Linked DNA regions of Homo sapiens: regions 2 and 3 are each linked to region 1. The links come from fine-mapping of genetic effects on gene expression. A gene starts in region 1. Each other region holds a variant in brackets. All regions are shown on one strand. Distances are from middle to middle.

Region 1 (2,764 bases):
TCAGGAGTTTGAGACCAGCCTGGGCAACATAGCAAGACCCCCATCTCTACTAAAAATTTAAAAATTTGCCAGGCATGGTGGTGCTTGCCTGTAGTCCTCGCTACTGGCAAGACTGAGACAGGAGGCTCTCTTGAGCTGTGATTGCACCACTGCACTCCAGTCTGGACAACAGAGAGAAACTCTGTCTCTAAAACAAACAAAAAGACTTGGAATCAGGAATAAATATGGTTGAAACTATACTATCTGGACTGAAGTGGTGGTTGCACTTAGTGGTAATGAGAAATGAAGTTAGTTGGATGAGTTAGGGTCAGAGTATGCAAGGCTTTAGAAATAGGAAACAGGAGAGAAACCATTGAAAGTTTCTGAACAGAACTTGTGATGATGAAATCAGAATTCAAGGGGAGAAAAAGGAGCATAGTGGTGGCATCCATGATGGATTTGGAGAAGAAAATACTAAAGGTGAATGGAAAGGGTGGACCAGGGGCAAACAGGTTATTAAAACAGTCCCATCATGAAGTGTTGAAATGCTGGATGTAAACACACCTACCACAGTATCAGTACAGACTAAGGGCTTGGATAAATGTTAGTCAAATCCAAGTACTAAAATTCTTCTTGGTTCGCGAAAATTTCAGAAGTGGCTCAAAAATCTGTAATGCATTAAGAATATTATTTGCTTCACAATATTTCATTTACTTAAGATTTTATAAGAATCAGCTGCTTATAAAATTGTTACTTTGTGGTGCACCAAAGCACCTTGTTCTCTCCCTCACCCAGATATGTTTCATGCTCTTTGTACTTTCCACCCCTTAACAGATTTGGAGGGAAGATTCAAGCCGTGGATTTTTAAATTTAAAGCAATGCTGTCACAAATTGAGAACTGACAACATGTCATTACACATTTAATTGCCACCGAATCCCAGAGTTTAAAAATTGTAAGGACCTAAGAGATAGGACCTCTCGTTGTACAGATGCGGAAACTGAGGCTGAGAGAGGGTAAGTGAACAGTCCCAGGTCACAGAGCTGCTAATGGGCAAGGTGGGACTAGAATCCAGGCTTGACTCCTCTACGCTGAGCCAAGGGTTCGAAGCGATTGGGATAAGGGAAGCCTGAGGCAGGGAACGAGAGTCAGGAAAGCAGCTCTTCCCAACCCTAGGAGGCCGGGGGACCTCGTCACCGCGGAAGGAGCGGAGCCAGGCCGACCTAAAAAGCCGCAAGTCCAGGTACCCTTACCCTGATGGCCGCGGCGACACACTCGGCCACCTTCCTGATCTCGCGATACTAGCCGGTACTCACTTTTCCGGCTTCCCCTAGGCCCCGCCCCCCCACCTCAGCCCTTCTGTCGTCATTTCCTGTGGGTCTGTAGGTTAAGGGAGAAGATGGCGGCGCTAGGGGAACCCGTGCGGCTGGAGAGAGGTGAGTGCAGCCGAGGCTCGGCGGAGGTGGGCGGAAGGGTTGGGGGAGTGCTGTGTCGCTGGAGGGGAGGAGGAGTGACCCAGGCTCTGAGATCCGGGCCACGCTGTCCCTTGTGCCGGCGCCAGAGGCCGCCGTTGTCTCTGTGCCTGGCTCTAGGAAGGGCGCTTACGGTATTTTGTCTGTTAACCGTAAGCCCTCCTCTGTTCACACGGACTGTTCCAAGGCACAGCACAACTAAACACAACCTGCCCGCTTCGCAGACACACGCCGCACACGCGCTCCCTTGGTGAGCACAGCAGAAGCAGCATTCGGAGACCCGTACACCCGAAAAGCAAACGTCACACACCCGGTTCGCACAGACTACACTCATTGCCTGTACAGCACGAGAACGGACACACGGTACAATTCAACAGAACCTCCTTTCCCCGCTGTTTGCACACAAACTCCTTCATTACTTTCTCCACAACCTCGCTTGTATTCGGGTTGGGGTATTTGCTAGCTTTTGTGCCCCTCCTAGAAATGGAGAGGTTGCTTTAAAAACAATCCTACTGACTTGGTCTTGGGAAGGAGGTTACGTAAGTAAGCCGAATAGTGGTAGATGCTAAAACACTTGCAGGTGCAGTGTTTTTCATTTCTTACAAACCCTACAATTGCAAACTGGTTGGCTGATTGCTTCCTAGAGCAGACTGTCAAGGAAAATAAAACCACCTCTGCTGAGTAATTAGAGATAGAGAAGCCTACGAAAATAACTGGCTATGCGCCTACCATGATTTCCAGCATTCCAGCGTTTCCAGTCCTTTTACAGATTTCCAGCATTCCACTCTGTCCCTAAGTCCTTTATTTCAAACAATTTCAAGCATGCTTTTCATACACCAGCATTAGAAATCATTGATAGGAATTGAGAAGTACAAATAAACATTTTGAGTACTGGTGGTAAAAAAAAATGTATATGTAGGATGGAGACTGAAATTATATTGCACATATTAACATTTGCAATTAGTCTAAATATTACTATTGTTCCCTAAGAAAACACATTTTTAGAATTACTGTACTTAGAAAAACCTCTTTCCTAATGCCTTCCCACAAACAAATGTGCACTTAATGTTGCTGATTTGCTCTTTACCGTGTTCACCATTTGGAAGCCTCACTGTAAATGAGATTGTTTCCGTTAAGCCTATTAAAGCATCATTTTAGAGGACTAGCTACTCTGGGAAGACTTGCCGAGTTAGGCCTAAGTCTCTGACATCTTCCTCTTGAGCACAGTGGCACTGTGTTTTATAGATGGGAGCAAATCTGTTTGGTGTTAACAGGAGTAAGTTTTTTCTTTGAAAGCTAGTTAAGATTCTAACGT
Region 2 (2,764 bases), 270 kb after region 1:
ACCCTCTTCAATCTAGGCTGATCCTATAACTTACTTTGGCCAATAGAATGCAGTGGAAATGGTGATATACCCAGTCTGAGTGTAGGCCTCAACAGGTCTTGTGTATTTCTATTCTCTTTCTTGGAAATCTGCCCAACTGCATGTGAATAAGCTCAGGCTAGAATGCTGGAAAACAGCAAGACCCAGGTGAAGCCACCCTAGACCAGCAAGTTTCCTGTTCACCAACAGTCAGTTGTAGATGCATGTGTGAATCCCTCCAAGACAAGAGAAATGCCCAGCCTAACCAAGTTCAAATTGCATGTCTCTAAAATTTTGAGATAAACAAATAGATATTATTGTATACTACGATTATTTGTTACACAGCAAACACTCACTGGTTCAAAACATTGAGAAGAATAGACTCTAGGAACCAGGGCACTTGTAGCTCTTCTAGAGTGCTGCCACCAGGTAACATAGCTCCAGTTGCCTTTTATTCTTTTTGAATCCTCTTCATTCCTGGGTACAAAAAAAAATTGATTGGTCTATCTTGGGTCATATGCCCTCCCCTAGGATAGCGATGGAGTCCTCTGGTTGAGTAGCTTTACCTAAACCACAAGGAGCAGAGAAAGGACAGTTCCTTAAAGGATAGTAGCAGCTGCTATTTCCATGAATAGGGAAGAAGAGGTCCTGTATAGACAAAACATATGTCTGCTATAAGCATTTACTCTGTGTACTTACTCAGGGAGAGTAAGACATTCACTTTCAGCAAGGAAGTCCTGGTCTATTAAGGAGTCAGGTAAGCCATGGTGTCAGGCAAGTAACAGTGTGGCTACTGCTGTCACAAAGGGGCCAGAGATAGCTTTGAGAGCTGGAGGAGGACAACTAACCCAGAATGAATACCAGGAAGATTTTTGGGGAGATGGCATTGGAACCGAGCTCTGTGAGATAAATAATGAGCTAGGTGAAGGAGTAGCAGTGGTGAGGGACACAGGAGGCCTTTTTAGGCACTCGGATTTTAGCATGAGTGAAAACCTGGAGTGAGAGTCTTCATCTGTCACCATGGGCCAAATATAAACCATGTTTATGCCTGGTTTGGCCTAATTTCTCTAAAAAAAAATGAGATAACTCAATTCACAGACTCTACTAGTTCCTACTGTTTCATCTCCTCCAGTTCTCACACTTGTTATCATTGGCTTGGTCCTTGTAGGCACCTGAGTTTGCCACTCTTAGCTAAGAGGCCAGAGAGCATCACTGTGGTTAGAGTGGTAGAGAGGGTATGAGAAGGTAAGGGAGAAGGGTTTGAGGCTGAATAGCTAGTGGGGAATTATGGAGAACCTTGTATGCTTGCTAAGAAACATGTACTTTCTCTTATAAACAATGCAGAACTATTACAGGTATTTGAGCAAGGGTGGTAGTCATGCTTAGACTTCAAAAGGATCAGTCTGGTAGCAAGTAGAAGATGGATGGCAAGGGCAACAAAGGAGGCAGGTAGAACAATTAGGAAGTGATTTTTGTTTTCTAGATAATAAGTACTGGCTTTAACTAAAGG[G/C]AGTGGGATGAGGAAATGGTGAGGATGGGACACATCTTTTCATGATGTCCTCCAGGGAGATGTGGAGATGTTGGTTGCTTCTATCTTTAAAAACTACTGTTGTTTCCTTAGAGCAAAAACATAATTCAAAAGGCCTTTTGCATCTGATAACAGAACTTCCCTATGTCAAAAGAAGACACATCTGTTCTGGAGAAATTGGTGATAAGCTTTAGTCTACATGATGCTGAGACACAAAATCCCTCCTCAGTCTTGCTAGGAAAAATAAACGGCTCCCTTGGACCAAATCAACTTGCCAGAGACCACAGCACTTTCCACACCACTTAGAGTCATGGATGGAGGGCTGTCAAAGGTCGGCCCCGAACTAGAAGCAGATGGGAAAGGATTCTTGCCAGAGACATCATCCAAACCTCTTGCTATTTAGCGATCAGAGGTTGAATGTTCAGAGAAAGTGCATCTGATGCCTTATTCACAACTGGATCAACTGAAATAACAATGAAAGGCGGTGTCTGCCTCAAGAGGGATAAATGGAGCAGCTGCCAGGAGATTCGTGTTTGCCTTCTGGGGAGAGGGTAACGGGAAAGGGCAGTGTCCTTACTCAAAAGGGTTTGGAAAGAAAGCAAAGAGAAAGCATTGATATGAGAGTTCTTTTTCTATGTCATAGAGTAGGCATGATGGGGAGGGTGTATATGAGTTGGGATGGTAAAGAAAAAGTATGAATTTATGATGGAGAGAGATCAATTTTTTGTTAGCTAGTTTTTTTTAAAAACAAGTATCAGTAGTTCAATTAATATGTTGCATGTCTGTTACAAGCATGAAAAGTTATAGCAGAGTGTATGACCCTTTTACTCTGGTTGGGAAGCCCAGACATTTGCATGGAAAAATGCCAATAATAATACAAGGAATAAAGGCTAATGGTGCAATCAGAATCCATTGGTGGTGATAAAAGGAGGAGGTGTTTAAGGGAAGCAATTTGGCAACAAATCTCAATTTTAGACTTGTTTTTAATCTCCAAATGATGCCATTGAGTCACAGAGCTTCAGGGAAAGGATTGAAAGAAGGTGTACATCAGAGAGCTCTACAGTTTTGTCTCCTTACTAGGCCACCTTGCCAACACAATGTGTTCACAATCCATTACTTGCTTTCCATAAATCTTGAAATTATATTGTCAATTGCACAATTCGATTGTATTTTGGTTTTGCATGTATATGCGTAATTAAAGCATTGACTTGTTAAATG
Region 3 (2,764 bases), 23 kb after region 1:
AATGCTGATACAGTGTAGGTCAAAGAAAACACCAAAAGTATAATAGAAGAGGCAGTATACGTATATTATTTAGTATATCCTAAACCTTTAGAAACTTTTTTGGAGACAAGAGTCTCCGTCACCCAGGCTGGAGTGCAGTGGCATGATCTCAGCTCACTGTAACCTCTGCCTCCTGGGTTCAAGTGATTCTGGTGCCTGAGCTTCCCAAATAGCTGAGATTACAGGCATGCACCACCATACCCAGCTATTTTTTGTATTTTTAGTAGTGACAGGGTTTCGCTGTGTTGGCCAGGCTGGTCTCAAACTCCTGGCCTCAAGTAATCCACCTGCCTCGGCTGCCCAAAGTGCTGGGATTACAGGCCTGAGTCACCATGCCCAGCCTAAAAACATTTTTTTTAAATATTAACTGTAATTTTAAAACTAAACTGCCAGGTGCAGTGGCTCACACCTGTAATCCCTGCACTTTGGGAGGCCGAGGCAGGTAGATCACGAGGTCAGGAGTTCAAGAGCAGCCTGGCCAACATGGTGAAACCCTGTCGCTACTAAAAATACAAAAATTAGCCGGGCATGGTGGCGGGCACCTGTAATCCCAGCTACTCGGGAGGCTGAGGCAGAGAATTGCCTGAACCCAGGAGGTGGAGGTTGTGGTGAACAGAGATCGCCCCACTGCACTCTAGACTGGGCAACAGAGCAAGACTCCGTCTCAAAAAACAAACTAACAAACACTAAAGTTTGCAGTTTGCTCCAGTGTATCTCAAAATCAAACTGGTAGGAACAGACTTATAAAAAGCTAATAGATATATCTAACTTGGAAGACTTGTATCCTTATGCCATATTTTATCATTTGACTACTAAAAAAAGAAACTGAATTAAAATAATCCATCACAGCATGCTTCTCCAAAACGATAGTATTAACACAATGCAAACATCAGAATGTCCAATAAAGTTAACAAGCCAAGGCAATTTTGTTACATACATTAACCCATTTATTATAGGCCAATGATGTCTCAAAGAGTAGAAGAGC[G/A]TCTACCGGTCTTTGAATTCCTTCAGTCTTCTGATGGCGACTTTACCGTGACAGCAGAAGTGGTATTGTAGGTCCAGGCACTGCCAGCCACTGTCTTCATGCAGAAACCACAGTGCCAGATCCCCGTAGCTCATCTCTTCATCTTGGTTTTGCCACAGAAAGAGCAAATGTACTTGGTGTGCTGGGTGATTTCAATTCTTCTTCACCATTTTCCGGAGGGAGGCCCCATAGCGGGTCCCATATTTACTGATGATTCTGACTTTCTTGGTGCATTTGGCCATGTCACCGCAAACTAAGTCTAAGCCCAGAGAGCTATGTGTTTTTTTGTTTGTTTGTTTGTTTGTTTGTTTGTTTTTTTAAGTAGAGATGAGGTCTCGCTGTTGCCCAAGCTGGTCTTGAACTCCTGAGCTCAAGCAATCCTCCCGCCTCAGCTTCTCAAAGTGCTGGGATTACAGGCGTAAGCCACCACACCCAGCCTTATTTCTAATTTTTAAAGCATCAAGAAGAAACAGTTTGTCACAACGTAATACAACTTTCTAACAGCCAGAAGTGCCCAAAGATGGACTACTCCCCATGGAGGTATGAATATGCCAACTCTAAGGTATCCAAGAATAGCAGGGATGCTGTTCAGCCTTCTTAAGCCTTAGGAAGGTAATTAAACTAGCGTTAATGTCTTTTCTAACCCTGTGTTTCTACATTCTGAAAGTTGAATTGTAAACTGCTTGTAGGAGAGCTCCATGTCGTACCTTATATCCTGGGGCTGCAGTGAAAGGCACCTGTCAGACCTCTCACTGTGGGGACACTAATTGACTAACAGTCCTAAGGTAAAATCCTTCACCCTGTTTGTGCCAAGGCCACACTTCCTATGGGCTGGTCCCAGCCCATGACTGAGCATGGCTGAGATACTAAGGCAGTCCTGTTCCTGGGAGACGTGAGACTCTGGCAGATAATTTTTGTGGCTTTGCTGAAATTTTATAGAACTGCACTGAAATCTAAGACTCTTTTCCTTCCTTCACCTCCTCACCTGGGGCCAGACCCACATCTCAATCTGATGGTTTCTCAGACGCCCTTAGCTCCCTCCCCATTTTCCCTTCACAATCACTTCCCCTAACAAATCTCTTGCATGAGTAATCCCATATTGATGTCTGCTTCTCAGAGGACCCACACTTGCCTTATCTTGTAGCAAAAAGTCATACGTCTTGGTTAGTGGTGGAGGCCTACATCAGAATCAGGAACTTTTTAAACACTGGGAATTCAGGGACCCACAGAGACCTTCTATAATAGAATCAATGGAGATGGAATCTTGGAACTTCTGTATTACAAACCTTCCCAGGGTGATTTACATGCAGACAGCCCTGCATCAGTCAAAACTCTTCAGTACCTAGCGGAGTACATTTTGAAAAGTAGGTATGTGGTAAATAGTCCTTGAAAAACAAAATCCAGCTGGGTGCAGTGGCTCATGCCTGTAATTCCAGCACTTTGGGAGGCCGAGGCGGGGTGGATCACCTGAGGTCAGGAGTTCGAGACCAGTCTGGCCAACATGGTGAAACCCCGTCTCTACCAAAAATACAAAATTAGCCAGGCATGGTAGTGCAGGCCTGTAATCCCAGCTACTTGGGAGGCTGAGACAGGAGAATTGCTTGAACCCAGGAGGTGGAGGTTGCAGTGAGCCAAGATCATGTCACTGCACTCCAGCCTGGGCAACAGAGTGAAACTCCATCTCAAAAAAAAAAAAAAAAA

Alleles and levels. Alleles are on the strand shown, and positions count from the first base shown. SD is a standard deviation of normalised expression in the study named. Not every link is listed here.
As copies of G replace A in region 3, the expression in esophagus muscle of the gene that starts at base 1,277 in region 1 goes down (small effect, 0.23 SD a copy in GTEx).

What was found. PIP is the estimated chance that this variant, and not a neighbour inherited with it, causes the effect. A credible set is the group of variants that fine-mapping cannot tell apart.
Region 2: its variant is the best candidate, but not a certain one, in a credible set for the expression of BDNF-AS in tibial artery (GTEx, PIP 0.82).
Region 3: its variant is the best candidate, but not a certain one, in a credible set for the expression of BDNF-AS in esophagus muscle (GTEx, PIP 0.73).

The regions. Positions count from the first base shown.
Region 1 is chr11:27,505,365-27,508,128 of GRCh38, reverse strand. BDNF-AS (BDNF antisense RNA) reads right to left here and starts at 1,277. Exons shown (of 7, transcript NR_033315.1): 1 at 1,231-1,277. LIN7C (lin-7 cell polarity scaffold C) reads left to right here and starts at 1,360. Exons shown (of 5, transcript NM_018362.4): 1 at 1,360-1,413. The coding sequence starts at 1,377. RefSeq lists enhancers at 954-1,243, 1,314-1,443, 600-1,799.
Region 2 is chr11:27,238,678-27,241,441 of GRCh38, reverse strand. No RefSeq gene overlaps it. Among named protein-coding and RNA genes, the nearest start is that of BBOX1-AS1, 21 kb to the right of the region's middle. The variant G/C (reference allele first, on the strand shown) is at 1,529.
Region 3 is chr11:27,482,391-27,485,154 of GRCh38, reverse strand. LGR4-AS1 (LGR4 antisense RNA 1) reads right to left here. Exons shown (of 4, transcript NR_131170.1): 4 at 2,722-2,764. It also overlaps the pseudogene RPL37AP7. Among named protein-coding and RNA genes, the nearest start is that of LGR4, 11 kb to the right of the region's middle. The variant G/A (reference allele first, on the strand shown) is at 1,025.